Regions from separate parts of the Homo sapiens genome. Here all the other regions are linked to region 3. Evidence: fine-mapped expression QTL. A gene starts in region 3. Each other region holds a variant in brackets. All regions are shown on one strand. Distances are between the middles of the regions.

Evidence for each region. PIP is the estimated chance that this variant, and not a neighbour inherited with it, causes the effect. A credible set is the group of variants that fine-mapping cannot tell apart.
Region 1: its variant is the best candidate, but not a certain one, in a credible set for the expression of MBTPS1 in monocytes (CEDAR, PIP 0.88).
Region 2: its variant is the best candidate, but not a certain one, in a credible set for the expression of MBTPS1 in testis (GTEx, PIP 0.80).
Region 4: its variant is the best candidate, but not a certain one, in a credible set for the expression of MBTPS1 in monocytes (Quach 2016, PIP 0.89).
Region 5: its variant is the best candidate, but not a certain one, in a credible set for the expression of MBTPS1 in monocytes (Fairfax 2014, PIP 0.89).

The regions. Positions count from the first base shown.
Region 1 is chr16:84,072,551-84,076,550 of GRCh38, reverse strand. It overlaps MBTPS1 (membrane bound transcription factor peptidase, site 1), which reads left to right. Exons shown (of 23, transcript NM_003791.4): 12 at 1,810-1,954. Among named protein-coding and RNA genes, the nearest start is that of SLC38A8, 32 kb to the right of the region's middle. The variant C/T (reference allele first, on the strand shown) is at 1,505.
Region 2 is chr16:84,078,244-84,082,243 of GRCh38, reverse strand. It overlaps MBTPS1 (membrane bound transcription factor peptidase, site 1), which reads left to right. Exons shown (of 23, transcript NM_003791.4): 11 at 336-497. Among named protein-coding and RNA genes, the nearest start is that of MBTPS1, 37 kb to the left of the region's middle. The variant G/A (reference allele first, on the strand shown) is at 2,097.
Region 3 is chr16:84,114,710-84,118,709 of GRCh38, reverse strand. MBTPS1 (membrane bound transcription factor peptidase, site 1) reads left to right here and starts at 1,768. Exons shown (of 23, transcript NM_003791.4): 1 at 1,768-1,975. It overlaps MBTPS1-DT (MBTPS1 divergent transcript), which reads right to left and starts at 1,667. Exons shown (of 1, transcript NR_186375.1): 1 at 1-1,667. RefSeq lists an enhancer at 1,038-1,197 and silencers at 1,348-1,447, 1,848-2,277.
Region 4 is chr16:84,085,720-84,089,719 of GRCh38, reverse strand. MBTPS1 (membrane bound transcription factor peptidase, site 1) reads left to right here. Exons shown (of 23, transcript NM_003791.4): 9 at 2,260-2,362. Among named protein-coding and RNA genes, the nearest start is that of MBTPS1, 29 kb to the left of the region's middle. The variant TG/G (reference allele first, on the strand shown) is at 2,246.
Region 5 is chr16:84,059,935-84,063,934 of GRCh38, reverse strand. It overlaps MBTPS1 (membrane bound transcription factor peptidase, site 1), which reads left to right. Exons shown (of 23, transcript NM_003791.4): 19 at 490-630; 20 at 3,122-3,253. Among named protein-coding and RNA genes, the nearest start is that of SLC38A8, 19 kb to the right of the region's middle. The variant G/C (reference allele first, on the strand shown) is at 2,089.

The DNA of each region.
Region 1 (4,000 bases), 42 kb after region 3:
TCTCTAGGGTTTTCCAGGTGTACTAACCTACCATATGGAAATAAAGATAGTTTTACATCTTCCTTGCCAATTCTTAAGGCTTCATTGATTATTTTCTGTCTAGTTGCATGGGCTGGTATATCTAGCACAGTGTTGAACAGCAGGGGAGAGAGTGGCTATCCTTACGTTGTTCCTAATCTTAATGGAAATGCCTCTTGTATTTCTCCGTTAAGTAAGATGCTGGATTTATCCCTAAGGTGTGTATATCTATATATATATGTATATATTTTTTATTGTGTTAGATTATCTGTCTAGTGCTGTTTTTCTGAGCGTTTTCATGAGGACTGTGGATTGAATTTTGTATGTTTTTTCAGCATCTAGAAAGGTAATCATATGAATACTTTAGACCTATTAATATATATGGTTTATGATATTAATGAGTTTCCCAATATTGAACCAATCTGTAATAAATGCCACTGGTCTTGCTATTTTGTTTTCTTAATATGATGTTGAATTCTGTTTGCTAATAATGGTTTCCTAGTTAAATCATGTTGAATTAGTAGTCGAATTAAACTGATTACAGAGCACAATTACCAGCAAAGTTTACAAACACATTTCAAGTAGAACAGATACCTTTGCTGATGCATACAATTGTAGTCACATGGCCGATCCATTCAGGATTTTTAAAACTAGGTAGTACCTATTTCCTTTTCTTTTTCTTTTTTTGGTGAACTTCAGACTTGTGAAGGTGGTATCTGTTGAGATAACTTAACTGTGATATGTGTTGATTATAACTGCCTGTGAAAGTCACAGTATCCCTAAAGATATTCCATTTGGTTTCTTAAATAGCAATTCAGTTGGCCCAGATACATCTTTGTTATTACAAACTAATAAAAAGTACTCCTTATACCGTAGTTGCTGTTTGAGAAAGGCTGGCATCTCCTGTAATGAGGTGAAGCAGTTGCGCAGAGCCGCCCGCCCACTGCACGTGGGTGCAGCTTGAGAAGCAGGATCCACGTATGCCTGGTGCTCTCAGGGAGGCCATCGTGGGTCACGTCTTGTCTGAAACATTTGTCTGTTCCTGTCTTTTCACCTGTTCGGGCGTAGCTGACACCGCTGCTGCACTAGGAGTGATGTGAACCCAACACAAACTCAGTTCAGATAAGGGGAAACCATGAAACCAACATAATTGCCAGAGCACTTGTGTCAGCACTTCTGACACAAATTATGTCAGGGTCCCCAGCACCTCTCCCAGGCTCGGTGCTTTAGGGCTCACGGGACTCAGCCTGTGGTCATACTCCCAGCTAAGATTCATTATAGTGGCACAGCAAGGATGCACAGCGGCTCTGTAAGGGAAAAAGATGCCTCACACGGAGAAAGCCTGGAGAAATCCAGGCGCAGCTTCCTAAGCTCTCCCCTCTCTCCTGCCAGGCAGGGTCTCACAGAGCTGGCCCCTTTCCTAGCAGCAAGCTGCATTGACATGTGTACGTGTTTTTGCCCAGGGAAGCCCTCTAGAGACTCAAGT[C/T]CAAGTTTCCATTAGGGCTGGTCACGTACTCATTCTCTGCCAGTGACAACTCCCAAAGCTCCAGACTTGCAAAAGCAGAGGTGTCCCTGCACATCACACTGTCTGTATAGACAGCAGGCTGGCACAGAGGCCTTATCTGTGCAGGAGCATTCCAGAGCCAAGTTCCCAGATGCCAGCCTAGGGCAGCGCTGTAAGCAAGCCCTTCTGAAGCTAGGTCTGCTTTGTTAACTCTGTCTTGTACAGTTGTGTTGCTTCATTGTAGTTTTCTCATATGATCTACTCTAACACTGTATTCTTTATTTCAGTTTGAGCCCCAGCTACATAGATCTGACTGAGTGTCCCTACATGTGGCCCTACTGCTCCCAGCCCATCTACTATGGAGGAATGCCGACAGTTGTTAATGTCACCATCCTCAACGGCATGGGAGTCACAGGAAGAATTGTAGATAAGGTGAAACTTCTCTCTGACTTGGTCTCTGACTTGATGGTGAACTTAGACACAGCCCAGACCTTTAGGCCATAGTTACTTCTGCTGAAGTTAAAAAAGGAAAAGTTCTAGGCCGAGGAGAGAGGATCACTTGAGCCCAGGACTTTAAGACCAGCCTGAGCAACAAAGTGAGACCTGTCTCTACAAATAATAAAGAAATTAGCCAGGGATGGTGGTGTGTGCCCGTGGTCCCAGATACACAGGAGGCTGACGTGGGAGGATCACTTGAGTCTAGGAGGTTGAGGCTGCAGTGAGCCAAGATCATGCCATTGCACTCCAGCCTGGATGACAGAGCAAGACCTTGTCTGGGAAAAAAAAAAAAAGGAAATAGCCCTGTCTAGGGTACCAGGGCTATTGGAAGTAGTGATTTGTTATATGCTAAGTCTGTTACAGAATAAGTCAGGGTATAAATTAATGAAACCAATTTTACTTTTTTGCTTTGGCATCTTGAGTTTGGCTCCTGAGTCAGCTAATTACATTTGATTTTTCATCTATACAATTTTGCGCCTATAATTAAAGGCCCAGTTGTAGTATTTCATTCTTTATTTTTTTTTGAGACAGAGTGTCACTCTTGTTGCCCAGGCTGGAGGGCAATGGCATGATCTTGGCTCACTGCAACCTCCGCCTCCCAGGTTCAAGCGATTCTACTGGCTCAGCCTCCCAGGTATCTGGGATTACAGGTGCCTGCCACCACGTCTGGCTAATTTTTTGCATTTTTAGTGGAGACAGGGTTTCACCATGTTGGCCAGGCTGGTCTCGAATTCCTGACTTCAGGTGATCCAGCTACCTCAGCCTCCCAGAGTCCTGGGATTACAGGTGTGAGCCACCGCACCAGCCAGTATTCTATCCTTTAATGTGTTTGGAAGATACGGTCTTTTTTTTTTAATATTGTTTTGTAAATTTTTAAAAATCTTAACTATGTAGACACTATCACAATAATAAAAAATAGGGAAAAACCATAGAAAACTCGCTTCCAGCCTCAGCATACTAACTTGGCCACTGTTTTTTAAATATTCTTTTCCAGCCCTTATCTGCAATACTTATTTTTTTTGTTATCATTGTGCACTTGGCAAAAATTCACAACTTTTTTGGTGGTTCTCATTATATCATAAATATTGAAAAATTCAGCTGCCAGGCGTGTTGGCTCAAGCCTGTAATCCCAGCACTTTGAGAGGCTGAGGCAGGAGGATCACGAGGTCAAGAGATCGAGACCATCCTGGCAAACATGGTGAAACCCCGTCTCTACTAAAAATACAAAAATCAGCTGGGCGTGGTGACACACGCTTGTAATCCCAGCTACTCGGGAGGCTGAAGCAGGAGAATCGCTTGAACCTGGGAGGCGGAGGTTGCAGTGGGCCGAGATCATGCCACTGTACTCCAACCTGGTGACAGAGCAACACTCCATCTCAAAAAGAAAAGAAAAATTCAACTATATGCATGGCACCAGTATACTTCTTAATGGTTGTTTATATAGAAATAGTAAATTATAATTTGTTTGCTATTTTCCTTTGAACTGTTAGGTAGTTTTCAATTATAAACATTTCACTGAATATTATTGCATATATGGTTTTCTTTTATTTTGAATTATTTCCTTAACATAAACTCCCTGGATTTGCTCCCTGAATCAGAGGGTGTGAACAGTCAAGGATGGCTCTTGGCACATCCTACCAAATTCTGTCCAGTGGAGTTATGTCAGCTTAGACTGCTGCCAGTGGGGTTCAGGAGAAGATGGCTCCACCACACCTTCACTGGGTGATTTGCCTTTTTTTTTCTGAGACGGAGTCTCGCTCTCTCCCAGGCTTGAGTGCAGTGGCACGATCTCGGCTCACTGCAAGCTCCGTCTCCCGGGTTCACGCCATTTTCCTGCCTCAGCCTCCCGAGTAGCTGGGACTACAGGCGCCCACCACCATGCCCGGCTAATTTTTTGTATTTTTAGTAGAGACGGGTTTCACCATGTTAGCCAGGATGGTCTCGATCTCCTCACCTCATGACCCTCCCGCCTTGCCCTCC
Region 2 (4,000 bases), 36 kb after region 3:
GCAGGCTTCCTCTCCCCAGAGGAGTCAGTACCTCCTATACATTCATGCCTTCTGCAGCCTATGTGGTTGTTTAGTTGAATTATCACAAAAATATGTGTTACTGATGCATTTAGCATAAGTGGGTCCCGTAGAAGGTTGCGGAGTGGTCAGTCCTGGATTGGGTACAGAGATGAGTGTGCACTCATTCTCTCATGCAGGCTGTGCCAGACAAGCACCTGTTGGATACTAAACAAGACTGCAGGCCTCTTGTGTGCACGTTTGTAGGTTAGGTTTTAGTGGTCCAATTTCCATTCTTTTACTGAGAGAAAATAGGCAATTCTTGATTTTTCCTCCAGCACAGTCCAGAAGCGTGAGCTGGTGAATCCCGCCAGTATGAAGCAGGCCCTGATCGCGTCAGCCCGGAGGCTCCCCGGGGTCAACATGTTTGAGCAAGGCCACGGCAAGCTCGATCTGCTCAGAGCCTATCAGATCCTCAACAGCTACAAGCCACAGGCAAGGTCAGTGCACCGCCCTGCCGATGGGTCTTTCTCTCCTTCACTGGGCTCTGGGCGAATTTTCCCTCTGCACAAAATACAAGCCTCAAAACAGAAAATGATGACTAAGCACAGAATTCTCGGGGTGCTTGGAGAGGTTTTGCTGCTGCTTCTACAGGGTGCTGCTGGCAGAACTGGTAGCTGCTTTCGCTTACTGATGTGATCTTTAATATAAATGGTTAAAAGTAATGATTTCTGAGTGGTTTTTTTGCTTTTGTTGTTTACTTTCTTAGACTCTTGAAATAATCTTAGGTTTACAGAAATTTTGCAGAAATAGGAGAGAGTTGTCCTACAAGGTTGCCCAGTTTCCCCTGATGCCACCATTTCAGATGAGTGGAGTACAGCTGTTAAAACTGTCATACAAACACTGACACTGTGCTGTAATTCACCTGCAGACCACATACATCTCGCCAGCTCCTGTGGTACTCCCGTCCGGCCTGGGCCCTGCTTTGTTTTCACCCTTATTTTGAAATGATTTTAGATTTACAGCAAAGTTTCACAAATAGTTCATGAGAACCCCTGAGTCCTTCACCCAGCTTTCCCTCACCTTAGTATCTTCCATAACCTCAGTATGAGCGTCAGAGTCTGGAAATGAACCTTGATGTAGCACTGCTGACTGACCTGCAGGCTTCACGCAGATTCCGCCCATTGTCCCACAGGTCCATTCTCTGGGATCCAGTCCAGGATCCCACATTGGATTTCATTGTCCTGTCTTCTTGGTTTCCTCTAATCACAGACGGTTCCTCCGTTTTCCTTCATCTTGTTATTGGGGGTATTCATTTTCATCATTTGATTAATGTGGTCTGTCAGTCTGGGTCCTCCAAGAAGCAGACGTCAAGCTAGGATTACATGTTCAAAAGATATGTGGGGAGTGAGGGCCTCTGAAGGATAAAGGGAAGGGTGTGGGAATAGGCAGGAACTGCAGTGCTGATCTGACACCGAAAAGTTAGGAGGACTGGGGAGGAAGAGGCTCGCACAGGCCTGAAAAAGTTTTGGCTGATGGGAAATCCTTGAACCAGATTGCCTGTTGGAGGAGTCCTGTGTCCCCCCAGAATGGGCCTGCCCTGGTGCCTCCTGTGTGCTTAGTCATTGGCTGGGAGCAGCCCCAGGGGAAGCGTGGCCTTGGCACAGACGTGTGAGGACCTGAGGGTGGCAGCTGCGGGTGTCAGCCAGCAGTGTCCTGCAGAGGAGACCTGAGCTGCTGGCCCTGTGGGGCCAGAGGTGGCTCCTGCCAGGTGTCTCCACTGTGCAGCCCGTGTTTCCTTTGTGACTTCTCAGTGTCTTGTGGGGGCATGTTTCGAGATGGCCTTGTTTCGTCACATACTTCCACTCACTCATGTTAGCATGCCTTGATGGTTCTTGCCTTTGGTGATTACTCCTGACAACTTTGACACGTGATGATTTTCTTTTTCCTTCATTCCATTTACATTGATTAATTGGAACTCTCCTGGAAGGAAGAGCTGTCCTTTCTGTCCCATTTATTTATTCAGTTCTTTACATCAGTGTGGACACATAGATATTTATTTTACTCTGTGGATTATAATTAATATCATTTAGTGGGTC[G/A]TTCAAATTGTCCCCGAGTTGGCTGTTGGGAGCTCCATCTAGTTGGCTTATGTGTGTTTTCAGCATGTGTCCAGCCTTTTCTGAGCACTTTCTGTCTTCCTGGCAGCACAGGATGTCCTGTCATGCACCTCTGTGCTCTAGCCTTGGTATCAGTTCTGTCTCCAAGCAGCTCTTTGCTGATGGCCTCTTCTAAAGAAATCAAGACCTGGGCACTCGGGGTGCTCCAAGCTGCTGTGCTCACAGTGGTTACTGCGCTCTTCGGACAGAGCTAGGCAACGTGTGGACACGTGCACAGACACATACGACTGCTTCTGTATCTGCCTATCTGTGTATGTACTGGAAACATGAGTTCATGCCACCTCCAGGTTCCAGCCAGTATCTCAGTGTTCATTCCAGCCTTTCCCTATCCTTGTTTCTATTTATTTATTTATTTCTTATTTACAGAGATGGTCATGTTACCTCTGTTTCTAACTCCATTCTCCAACAGTGAGAAGCCTGGCTCTCATTATCCACAATATGTTGGCTTATTTGCTTAGTTGTAGTGTATACGTACTGAGCAGCTTTGGAACTGCTAGCCCATGTCCTTGTGAGTTTTTTGAATATAGTATTTGTGACAGTGCGTCATTATCTTTGGCCCTACAGAATACAGTTATAGTGTTTTTTTCAGTTACTTAGGTTAATTCTTTCCTTGGTGTCTTTTTAATACAGTTGGACTCATTTATTCGTGTTTGTATTCCTTTTTAGATTTCCCCCACATCCTCGTTGATTATAACTTGTTATTGGGTGTGTGAAACATGACTGTGGTTCTAAGGATGTGTTCGTTTGTTCTTGCACTGCTATAAAAAAATACCTGAGACTGGGTAATTTATAAAGAAAAGAGGTTCAGTTGGCTCCTGGTTCTGCAGGCTGTACAGGAAGCATAGCACCAGCACCTGCTTCTGGGGAGGCCTCAGGGAGCTTCCAATCATGGCAGAAGGTGAAGGGGAGCCAGCACATCACATGGCAAGAGAGGGAGCAAGAGAGCGGGGAGGTCCCAGACTGTTAAACACCCAGATCTTGCCTGAGCTGAGTGAGAACTCAGTTACCACCAGAGGGATGGTGCTAAACCACCCATGAGGGGTCTCCCCCAGGACCCAGTCCCTCCCACTAGGCCCACCTCCAACATGGGGGATTACACGTCAGCGTGAGATTGGGAGGGGGCGAGCATCCAAACCATGTCAGTTCCCACTCGCCCATTCTTTCTACCAGGCTTCCGCACACGCCTTAGGTAACCATGACATCAGGTTTGGGTTTATCCTTCCCCCTGCCCCCACCACCCCACAAATGAGCACATACATAGAAGGATAGCATCGCTGTGGATATTGTTTTGGATTCTGCTTTTTTCACTTAACGTCCTGGAAATCTCTCCACGTCAGTGCGTAGAGATTCTCCTTTTTCACAGCCGTATCCTGTGAATGTACAATCGTTTAAGCCACTACTTGTCTACATATGGGCTTTTAAGTTGTTTCCAGTATTTTGTAATTATAAACTTGCAGTGAATAACCTCAGGCCTGTGTGTCTTAGTTTTGTTGGAGGTGTTCCTTCAGGGTAAATTGCTAAAAATTTACCCTGCTCAGCATTGAGAGCGTCTGGTAGCTCTGTTAGGTAAGGTGGCACTGCTGGTCTGGGTTGAGAGCATCGGGTAGCTCTGTTAGGTAAGGTGGCACTGCTGGTCTGGGTTGAGAGCATCGGGTAGCTCTGTTAGGTAAGGTGGCACTGCTGGTCTGGGTTGAGAGCATCGGGTAGCTCTGTTAGGTAAGGTGGCACTGCTGGTCTGGGTTGAGAGCATCGGGTAGCTCTGTTAGGTAAGGTGGCACTGCTGGTCCGGGTTGAGAGCGTCAGGTAACTTAGGTAAGGTGGCACTG
Region 3 (4,000 bases):
GTTCAGAAAATCGTATGAGATCTGAGTCAGGAAAGGATTCAAGAATCCACCACCACATATTGAATCATATAGGAGCCGAGCACTTTATGAGTATGCTTTTTGTTTGTTTTTGAGACAAGGTCTTGCTGTGTTGCCCAGGCTGGAGTGCAGTGGCACAATCATGGCTCACTGCAGCCTCGACCTCCTGGGCTCAGGCAGTCCTCCCACCTCAGCCTCCCTAGTAGCTGGGACTGCAGGTGCACACCACCACACCTGGTAAAAACAAAACCAAACACAACTATAGAGACATGTCTCTGTTGCCCAGACTAGTCTCAAACTCCTGGGCTCAAGTGATCCTCCCGCCACAGACTCCCAAAGTGTTGAGATTACAGGCATAAGCCACTGCGCTAGGGCTTATGTGTGTACTTAATTTAACCCTCATCCTTTAAGGTAGATATTAGTACCCCTATTTTTTAAAAAAATTATTTATTTATTTTTAAGGCAGAGTCTCGCTCTGTCGCCCAAGCTGGAGTGCAGTGGTACGATCTCAGCTCACTGCAACCTCCGCCTCCCAGGTTCAAGCGATTCTCTGCCTCAGCCTCCTGAGTTGCTGGGATTACAGTCATGCGCTACCACACTCAGCTAAGTTTTTATATTTTTGGTAGAGCCGGCGTTTCACCCATGTTGACCAGGCTGGTCTGAAACTTCTGACCTCAAGTGATCCGGCTGCCTCGGCCTCCCCAAGTGCTGGGATTACAGGCGCGAGCCACCCCGCCTGGCTAGTACCCCTATTTTTGTAATGAAGAAGCTGAGGTACAAAGAGGTTAAACAACCTGCTCAAAATTACGAAGTAGAAGCCTGAGGTGGGGTATGGTAATTTGTGATTCTACATTTATCCACCATATTAAGTCAACTGTGTTAAATCATGTTGAAGGAAGATGATGCGCTGTGATCTGTAATATTGGTGCAGTTCAGCATTACCGTGGTGCAGTGTCAAGTTCCAAAAGACACAAAACTGTCTGATCGGCCTGTAGCGCATCACCGCCCACCAGCAGTACCTGAAGACGCTTTCAGTCCCCTGCTAGTGCCGTACGGAGTCCGGGCTGGTCCATTTACATTGAAAACAAACTGATCCTAGCATCTAAGTCACCCAGACATCTTTTAGGCGGCAAGCTTTTCAGACAGTTTAACACATTTATTCTTGTTTTTTCAAAAAGAGCAAACACGTGGCGTTACAAAGGTCCTCCGTTTCGCACGCACCGGTGTCCCGGCAGCGCGCTGCGCGTCGGGAGGCCCAGTCTGTCGTCCCGTGGGGCCGGGGGTCAGGAGGTCGGGCAGGCGGGATTTGGGGTTTCGCGTGTTCCGGACCGGACACTTCGCCATCTTAACGAGCTACCGCCCGGGTTAAGGGGCACCCAGGGCAGGTGCCCGGCCGGGGGTGGGGTGTCCGAGCCGCCGGTGCCTGGACGTGGACCCCTGCAGGAAGGGTCCGCGCGGGAAGCGAGCTCTCCACGAGTCCATGACAGCAGGCCCGCGGGGGCAGGGAGCCTGCGCCAGGCAGTCTTTCTAGATCCTGGCCCAGCCTGGCCGCTTTCGCGCCCGTGCTCCTTTTCGGGGATCCTAGAGCGACGCGCAGAGCGGACCAAGGGTTCCCCCAGCGCGTTCTCGCCGCCTGGCAGCTCGCTGGCCACGCCCCTCCGCTTCCACCCTGCCACCGGCCCCCGCCGCCGCAAATGTCGCGAGACCTTCGTCCATCCTCCCGGCGTGGTCCCGCTGCCCACGGCGTCCAGAGCGCGCACGCAAGCCCCGGGAGCGCGGGACAGACAGGGCACGCTGGGTCGGCGGAGCTGAGGCTCCCAGCTGTGGGCCTCGCTGGCCCGGTCGCCCAGTCTCGCGAGAGTTGGGAGTAAACAGCCCCGAATGGAGTGCCCAGGCGTGTTCGCCGCGGAGGCGCCGTTATCCCGGGCCCGCCGGCCCTGAGCTCCCGGCGGCGCAGGTACGTCAGCCGCCCGCGCGCGGCCTCCCCGACCCGCTCCGCCTAGCGGCGGCGGCCCGCTCGCTCAGGTGTGCCGGTTGCGTCCGAGGCCCCGAGGCGAGGGCTGCGGGGGCCGGGCCGGGTCGGGGGAGGTGGGCGCGGGGCCTCCGGCGCTTGTTTGGACACAGCGTGCCTGTACCGCGGCCCTGCGGGGGTCTGCGCGCTCCGGCAGCTTGTTCCGTTGCCTGGTTTTCTTTACGTGAAATGAGCATTCACCGAGTGAAACAATACGCCCTGCTCTGGCCCGGAGCCTCCAGACAGACTCAATTCTAGGTGCGCTTCCGGGGCAGTGCTGGCGTCAGGTTTAAAAGACGTCGATTCTTTGCCTTATCTCGGTCTGTGCATATTGCGCTGCTGGTTTTTGGAAATGCGGGGATTCTGTTCGGCGAACTCTCAGAACCAGATTGCCTTTTAAACCTGTAGCTTCTTAAAAATCTTGCCTCGCCTTGGCATGGTTGCGCTACCTAAGACCGTTGTGGATCGTCAGTATTTTTATTAAGATGTTTACCTTTCATATTGGGTTGAGCCCCTGAGAATCTTGGCCTATTTGTCTACACAAATTAAGTTATTAGATTCTGATTGACACTTCGAAATTACGTGGAGTGGAATACGACCTGCGTTGAATTCTGGAGACTCATCCTTTAGTCTGAACTGTGTAGGTAAGCCCTCCTAACGTCAAGGTCTCCAATTGTATGTCTACGAAAAGGAGGGCTTGCAGAAGAGAAGTAATTCCTCTCATTTTTTTTTTTTTCAATCTGGAGAATCCGCTTTTATTATTTATACTTATTTTTTAATGTAAGAGCTTCATTGAAGTAGAATTTACATACCATAAAATCCACCTGTTTTAAGTGTACTATTCAGTGGTTTTTAGTAAATTTACAGCAGCACAGCCACTACCAAATCCACTTTTAGAACATTTCCGTTACCCCAAGACCTCTGATGCCCAGTTGTAGTCAATGCCCATTTCCAGGCCCCGCCACAGGCAACCTTTCATCTACTTTGTCTTTCTAGATTTGCCTTTAATGACTATTTCGTATATTCAGATGGAAACATATGATATGCGGCCTTTTGTGTCAGGCTTCTTTCACTTAGCATGTTTTCACAGTTCATCCATGTTGTAGCATGAATCAGGATTTCATTCCTTTTATGACCAAATAATATTCAGTTGTATGGCTATACCACATTTTGTTTAAGCATTTATGCAGAACACTTTTGACAAATAAAAGTTTATTTTATGCTCTAATGTGTGATGCGGATGACAGCAAAACTGTTGATTGAGAATGGGAGCTGGGACCTGACCCAGACACGTGTCAAACGACTGCACTCCCCAGGCACCCCGTATAATCAAGAGTTGGTCCTTTCTATATAAAAAGGGAAAATTCCAATGCAGAGCTTGCGGAACCTTTGAAGCACCTAGGGAAGAAGTGGGAGCTCTTCTAGTCAGGAGGTTAACAAGAACTAGGAAGGCTGGGCCGGGCGCGGTGGCTCACGCCTGTAATCCCACAATTTGGGAGGCCGAGGCGGGCGGATCACAAGGTCAGGTGTTCAAGACCAGCCTGGCCAACGTGGTGAAATCCCGTCTCTACTGAAAATACAAAAATTAGCTGGGCGCAATGGCAGGCGCCTGTAATCCCAGCTACTCGGGAGGCTGAGGCAGGAGAATCCCTTGAACCCAGGCGGCAGAGGTTGTAGTGAGCCAAGATCACGCCGCTGCATTCCAGCCTGGGCGACAGAGTGAGACTATGTCTCAAAAAACAAAAAACAAAAAAAAACTTGGAAGACTGAAGGCTAAGGTGAACTGTACATTGCTGCCATCAGTGCTGCGGAATTCTGCTTGAGGAAACGCTTTATTTATTTTTATTTTTTTGAGACAGAGTCTCGCTCTGTCGCCCAGGCTGGAGTGCAGTGGTGGATCTCGGCTCACTGCAACTTCTGCCTCCCGGGTTCAAGCGATTCTCCTGCCTCAGCCTCCCGAGTAGCCGGGAC
Region 4 (4,000 bases), 29 kb after region 3:
CAGACAGGTCCGACCTGCCACTTACGGCTGAGGCACCGTCACTTCTCTGAGCCTCAGCTCCCTCACCTGTGATGGGAGTAGAGAGCAGCCTGCAGAGTACCTATGAGACTGAAATCAGACAGCAGGGGGAGAGCACCATGAATGCTGATGATGCTCTTTGAATGGAAGCTGCTCTTTTTCTTTTTTGTGCGTATTTCTACTGTTCAAACATATATTGTAGCAGTTTTCTAATCAAGAATCTGCAGCAGTTTATTATTGCCTAATAGATGAAATCCACATTTTTCTTTTGTTTTTCAAGGTCTTCAGTATTCTAGGCTGAATTGCAAACTTTTTCTGTAAAGGGTCAGATAATAAATATTTTAGGCGTTATTGTGTGAAAGCAGCTGCGGGTGATATATGTGTAAATGAACATGACTGTGTTCCAGGAACGCTGTATTTGCAAAAACAGGTGTGGGCCTGGTTTGGCCCATGGGCCGTAGTTGGCCAACTCCAGCCACAATCTCAGTTCACCTTGATCTTCCACTTCCCCATGTACACCTTCCTGGAATGAGTGTCCTCCTTCTGTTTCTCTCAGGTCTTCCGCACCCCATCCCTCTGCCCATCCTCCTGGCCATACCTGTCTGGATTCCCAGCTCTTTCGCATGCTGTTCGGACTGTTTTGTCACACGCTGGCTGCCGTTCTGAAACCCTGTGGCTTTTGTGGGTGGTTGCACTCCGTAGCTTCTTACCAGAGTTGTGAGTTTATGGTGTGTTGAAGGAGCAGAGCCTTGCCAGGAAGGCCCCATCTCCACCTTGTGTGTACGCTCATGCTGCCTCACACAGACCTGGCCACCTGCTGGCTGTTGAAGTGACAGAACGTGGCATGTGATCACGGCAGCCCAGCTTGTGGTGGGTGTGGTTTTTTCTGCTTGGGCATCTGGTGGGACTGCTTCCAGGGCTGGTCTGAGGACAGTAACATGCATACGTCAGCCCCTCTGGGAATGAGGCACACATCCTCCGGTCCCCTTTGCTGTGGTCTCTTTGTCTGGGTCCTGTGCCCTTGGTGCTCCTAGACTCTGTGGTGCCAGCAAGCCTGCAGCCTCACGTCCCTCCTTTTCAATACCAGCAATGATTTCTTGATGCGTTCCCTTATTTTTTAAGGGTTTAAAGTACACTAAGCATTATAGGGCTTAGCAGGTAGAGGAGGGTGGGAAGGTGGTATTTTTTTGGTCAACTTCAGTGGGAGTTTCTGTCAGTGACTTCTGTACCAGCCTCTGCTCCTTGAGTTCCTGGGAATGTGTAAACATCTAGCATCAGTCATCAGAAAATCATTATTCGTTCCTCTGAATGACCAGCTGGTAGGATATTGGTGGCCAGTGGGCTGAGGAGGCAGTACCACTTTTTCTCGGTGTGTTGGGAATTGTCAGTTAAAAACACACTCTAGAAGGAGAACTTCATGCTGCTATTATCTCTTAAGCCACTTGGAATCAGTTGTATGTAGTTGTTGATTTGTCAAAGAGTTCATTTTTTTTGGTAGTGGAGCCATAATAAAGCTTAGCAATGCAGTTTTATAACTGAGTGTCTCATATTTTCAAATGGTTCATCTTTATCTTGACTTTACGGTTTACACATTTTTGCCATTATTTATTTCACTATAATTTCTTTGCAGATCTAGTGCACTTAAGGTATTGGAGAGACTCTAAGGAGCTCAAGATTACAGAGTAATGATAGTCCTTCTACAGTTCCCTATGAGGAGGGTAGAACACCACCACAGGTCAATCGAAAACTTACCACTTCCTGACCTTGGCAGATGTAAATGTGTGGTTATGGTTTCTTCCAGGAGAAGTGTGTGATTTAGCTGGGGAGTTAAGATGAATGTGCTGGGAACAATTTGAAAGTGATGTGAGAATGTGTCGTTAGGTGATAAATTGTGATTGTGTTAAGTGTTGTGAGGTTCAAGGCAAGTACAGATGCTTAAGGCTTGGATTGCTGGAGGGAAAACGTGAGCCTTGAGCCCCAGTGTGCCAAGTTGACAGGGAGGAGAAGAAAGGAGGGGCGTTGCAGGTGAGAGGGCGTAATGTGAGCACAGCATGAACGTGGCAGGATCATGCGTTTCACAGGACAGCCGTGAGGAGCTGCACACGTCTTCCCACAGAAGCAGCTCATACAGTGTTAGATTGTTCTGGGAGTATTCGCCCTGGTTTGAATCATCCATTTTAAATTATTTCTCTTGTTTTTTTCTTTTTCTTTTCTTTTTTTTTTTTTT[TG/G]GTCTCAATATAGCACTCTGAATAACCCTGCTGATCAAATGGATGTGATTGGAGTAGGCGGCATTGACTTTGAAGATAACATCGCCCGCTTTTCTTCAAGGGGAATGACTACCTGGGTACGCTCTTCTTTGCTAAATAATTGTATTTAGCTGGACAAACTACTGTGGCTAGTGGCACCGGTTGTTGACGAGCCTTGGGGTGTATTTGTAAGTGCACAGACACCCTCACATTCACATGGGAATAGCCGGGGCTGTGAGTGCCTGCCCAGCCGTGAGGACGAGAGATCTGGGCCCCGTCAGCATCTGCCACTTCACTCTGGCAAGTCCACAGCTGCTGTGATGAGCACCGGCTGATTCTAAGCGGTGTTTCCCAGTTTAACTTATTAATTGATTTCTGAGGAACTCACCTTTAGGTGAATTGGGTTCCTGCCCGTTTACCCTATCTAGTAGTGGTAAGCAGTCCTCCTCAGTGGTAGGTGAGATGATATTTTTTGGGGGAGGGGAGCCTTAAGAAGTTGGAGAAACCATTGAGAACAGCTTAATATCAACTCTGCTAACACAGAAACAATTGTATTTAGCTGGACAAATTCAAAATAACTGCTACAGTTAATAATTCAGCTGTTTGGGGTTTAATTATGCAGCACATTCACCCACCTTTACCTGTCAAAGTTTGATGAAAAATTAGACGCTCGTGCAGAACAGCAGTTGGGCACCTTTGCCCTCGCTGTGGCCGAGGGGAGCATCTGCCCTTCTCATTCTTCAGGGTCAGAGCATCTCTTGGTGTTTAACGTCACATGCCACACTCGGAGGCCTCAGATAAGTCCCTGGAAAGATTCCCAACTGCCTGGGAACACTGTGGGCCTCGTCCACACTGTAGCCACTTTACAGGATAGCCTTCTGCCTGAGCCTTTGTCCTGTGACAGCGTCAGCCCCCAGCGTCCCCGCCACTCAGCCCCACCAGGGGTCCCCGCCTCCCACACTCACGTGCCTCTTCCTGGAGCTGACCTGTTGGCTGGGGACCATTCTCTCATGTGACAGTCTGTGCAGGGCAGGCTGCGTGTCCTCCCATCCACGCTCCCTCAGCATGTTCCTTGTGCTGCCGGATAATGGGAAACTGCATCCACCACTTTGTCCCCAGCTCCCTGTGTAAATGCTCTCACCGAACTGTGGTGAGATGTCATCCACTTTGTCCCCAGCTCCCCGTGTAAACGCTTTCACCAAACCGTGATGAGATGTCACGTCCATGGCCTTCATCACCAGCCAGCTTTTTAATGGCATTTGAGAAATGTCCTTCCATCATCACAGCTGCAGTGGAGGATGCCTTTACTCGGTATCCCAGTATGTGCATCCATGGTCCTTGGGTTTGATGGTCAGAAAAGGGCTTCCCTTCAAATTGGGCTCCTGTTTTCTGACAGAATATGAGATCCTATTCTAATTTTCGTTTTGCCCCAATTCTTAAGAAGCTTAAGCAAGTACTTATTAAAACGTTATCCCAAGTTAGTCGTGTGGTTATCTTGTTCCTTCTCAGTGGTTTCTTATTTCCTCTTTTACAACCGTTTGAAACATCCACTCATACCGTGTACTTTTTTCCTTGTAAAGAAACATGTTTGGGTTTTTTTACATTTTAATTTTCTAATTTTTCTAACATATTTCTAATTTTAACTTATCTAGAGATAAAGCAGTTTCCAGTTTCTGGTCTTGGTGATAAGCCAGTGTCCACTTTCCAGTCTGGCATGTCAGCAAAATTAAAATACT
Region 5 (4,000 bases), 55 kb after region 3:
AAATTAGTTACATTTGTCCTAGCTTTTCATAATAAAACGTGAAACCTGGGTATTAGTATATATGACTGTATTCATAGAGAAACCTGTGTGTTTAGCAAGATCTGCTGGCTGCCCTTTGTGTAGGTGTCTGAAAACATAGGCCTTTCAGGATAATAAGAGGGGACACAATTTAGGTTTTTTTTTTAAGATAGAGGCAGCACCTTTGCAATTGTAAATATTATGTACTGCCATGGCAAGTAAAAATGAAAGTGGATAGATACGGAAATACACACAAAGTGAATTTTGCTAAAACAAATCAATGGCACTTAAGACATTTCTATTCTAAAAGGCTTATTCTTAAGGCTTTTCTATTCTAAAAATTTGCAATGTTTTAATTGAATATTAGATTTTGTAAATGTGGTTTATTTGTCACGTGGATGAAATATCAGGAAATAACTCACTGCTCAGTGGAAACTCTCATGGCTGTTGTTTTTTGTTGTGTTGTTTCAGGATTGGAGGTTTTAAAGCAGGAAACAGCAGTTGTTGAAAACGTCCCCATTTTGGGACTTTATCAGATTCCAGCTGAGGGTGGAGGCCGGATTGTACTGTATGGGGACTCCAATTGCTTGGATGACAGTCACCGACAGAAGGGTAGGAAAAACGCAGATGGACTTTGTGACTTCGGCACTCAGATCCTTTCTTCCCTTTGTCTCTGGAAAGGCGCCCGTGAGATGCTGGCAGATCAGCCGACATCTGTTCACTTGAGCCAGGCTCAGCTGGAGATGTTGCAGTCACTTTGATTGCTTGGAATATTTTGATAGGTGTCTGAGTGTGCACACATTTAATAAGCAAAACAAAGCTACTTGTTGGGGCCATGATGCCTCTTCTCCATCTTCACCTTCCTGAGGCCAGCGGAGGCGGGACTCCCGCGTTGTGGTGGAGAGTCCCTTCCCTGACTTCCTTGGGGCCTGCCCCTCCCAGGCTTCCTACGCCGTGCTGCCTGGACTTTGTGGGCACTGCCACGAGGGGGCGCCCTTCTCTGGTCTGACTCACTCTTTTACTGGAGGGCTGGCTCTTGGCTGTCCTTCCAGACCTGGAATTCGGGCTTTTCTTAGCCTTTATCAGTGAAGAGCGTTTGTTATCTCGAGGCGTGAAGGGGAGGCAAATAGGCATGCCAGTCCTCTTCCCTCCGCGTCTTTATGTCAGTCTCTCGATGCATCCGTTGGATTTGGGGGCTTGAGGTTGGGCACAGACTATTTTTCTCATTTTGTAAAGGGGAGAAAGAATGGTAAAAGTGCTCCATGTTTTTACCTGGTGAGATGATAATGACACCAGGACTGAAAGGCAACCTTCTAATGCGCTGTGACCACTGGGGAACTCGAGGCACAGGGCGGGTGGTGAGTGACAAGAATGAGGCACTAACAGCGTGCGCTGAGAGGTGTGTGTGTGCCCCTCCGTTTCAGGCTGAAGTTGACTACATTCCTGGCATTTATGTAAATCCCTAGACTGGGATGGGTCTTTTTAAAAATCAAAAATGGGCCGGGCGCGGTGGCTCACGCCTGTGATCCCAGCACTTTGGTAGGCCGAGGTGAGTGGGTCACAAGGTCAGGAGTTCATGACCAGCCTGGCCAACACAGTGAAACCGCGTCTCTACTAAAAATACAAAAATTAGCCAGGCGTGGTGGCGTGTGCCTGTAGTCCCAGCTGCTTGGGAGGCTGAGGTGGGAGAGTTGCTTGAACCCGGGAGGCAGAGGTTGCAGTGAGCCGAGATCGTGCCACTGCACTCCAGCCTGGGTGACAGAGCAAGACACTGTTTTAAAAAATAATAATAAAATAAAATTAAAATTAAAAGTGAGGGTTAAAGTCACAGTTAAAGGAGGTTAATGTTTTATTTCCACAGAGATTTTAAGACCTGAGATCTCCTGGTAAGAGTCTTTATTAAATTGTAAATGCCTGAGAGGGTGGTCCTAGGCCTTACATTTAAAATGGCAGCTTTTTTCATCTTTCAGGGGCATTAAGCACTTGACCAGAAGTGCCCTTTAATGAGAGGAAAGTACTTAATGGCATTTTTCTCACACGGATCTTGTCTAGTCCAGGTTGATGTTAATG[G/C]AACTTGAAGGGGCAGACACAGGAGAAACAAGATGGAAACAGAAGCTCCAGGTTTCAATACCAGGTTGCGCCTTCCCTCTCAGAAAGGATCCTTTGTGAACGGGAGCTGTTGCTAGCCCAGTGCCTCGACTCTGAGGTGTCCCTGAAAACAAATTGCCCTTTCTCTGCTGTCACACTTCCAGTGGTCAGGGCCCTGCCGACTCGAAGCCCAGCTCAAGTGAACAGATGCTGCATGGGTGTTGAGCCTTGCCTCCACCCCCTGGGGTGTCAGTACAGTTCCTTCTCCCCAGGAGAGCCTCTGGGATGCAGCAGGAGCCATGGCCCTCCGTTCTCCTCTCCCTGTTGCCCCTGAGACCCCGCTCTCAGGCCCTTCTTTTCTCAGTGGGTGTCACATGGTCTCACTGTCTCTGAATGAGCTCCATTCTGCCCCCATCCATGAGGAGCTGAGTGTGGCACTCAGGCAGTTGGTGCAACCTGGTGGACAGTGGTGCTGACCACCTGGAACCCTGGGGCACTGGGAGTGGAGCCCTGGTCAGGTCATGGCTGTGTGTGCTTATCTGGCTGGGCTGGGCCACTGAGAATGCATGTCTTATGAGAATAGGGGAATCTGGAACATGTTGGATTTACTTTGACCTAAACTCGTGACTTCTGAACTCCCATTTCCCCCACTTTTGGGGACTAACTTAAAAAAAATTCCTTTAGAGATTTCTTCTTAAAAGCTAAATTCCGGGCCACGTGTGGTGGCTCACACCTATAATCCCAGCACTTTGGGAGGCTGAGGCAAGAAGATCACTTGAGCCCAGGAGTTTGAGACCAGCCAGACCCATTTCTGCAAAAAATAAAAAATTAGCCGGGCATGCTGTCATGTGCCTTCAGTCTCAGCTACTTGGGAGGCTGAGGCAGGAGGATCACTTGAGCCCAGGAGCTCAAGGCTGCAGTGAGCTATGATTGCGCCACTGCACTGGGTGACAAGAGCGTGACTCTGTCTGGAAAAAAAAAAAGGAATTCCTAAACAGGCTTGTTGACTTCGCAGACTGCTTTTGGCTTCTGGATGCCCTCCTCCAGTACACATCGTATGGGGTGACACCGCCTAGCCTCAGTCACTCTGGGAACCGCCAGCGCCCTCCCAGTGGAGCAGGCTCAGTCACTCCAGAGAGGATGGAAGGTGAGTGGATGGGCAGGATGCCTTGGGGAGGGAATTGGATCCAGCTGAACATGATGCTACTTCAGCCAGTGGCTGTGCCTGCCAGCAAGTGGGGCCAGTTTGTGTGCGCCGCTGAGTGGTTTTCGTAATGGCTGCGGGTAGAGCAGCACTCAGCGGCTCTAACCTGCCGAGAGGCCATCCTTAGTCCCCAGAGGGCCATGATCGAGGACCCAGTGTGCAGCTGCTTTCCCACGTGCACCCCGACCCTCACGCCACTCTGAGTGTGTTTACCGTCCCGCTCTCACAGGTGAGGACAGTGGCTCCTACAGATCTTCAGGAAGAATCACCAACATTCTAGAGCACTTGCCAGGTCCCATGCAGCAGGCTGGGATGCTCCCATGGATTACCTCACTGTCCCCTCTCAGTAATCCTGTGAAAATAGATGTTATTATTCCCAGTTTCCAGATGAGGAAATGAGAGCTGAGAGAAATTAGATAACTGCCTGAGATCGCCTGGGCGGTATGTGGTGGTGGAGCCTCAACCCGCCTCTGGGGCCTGTGCTGGTGCCGTGGGGCCGCCAGCTGCTTGGCACTTAGTGGGGTGGGTATCAGTGCGTCTAAGTCCCTGGTGTGCTGGTCCTTACAGCGCTGCCCGTAGAAGGCTCATGGGAACCACAGGCATCATTTAAAATTTTCCAGGAGCTGCGTTTAAAAAGTAAAAAGAAACACAGATGAAACTATTTTAATAATATACTTGAGCCCAAGACAT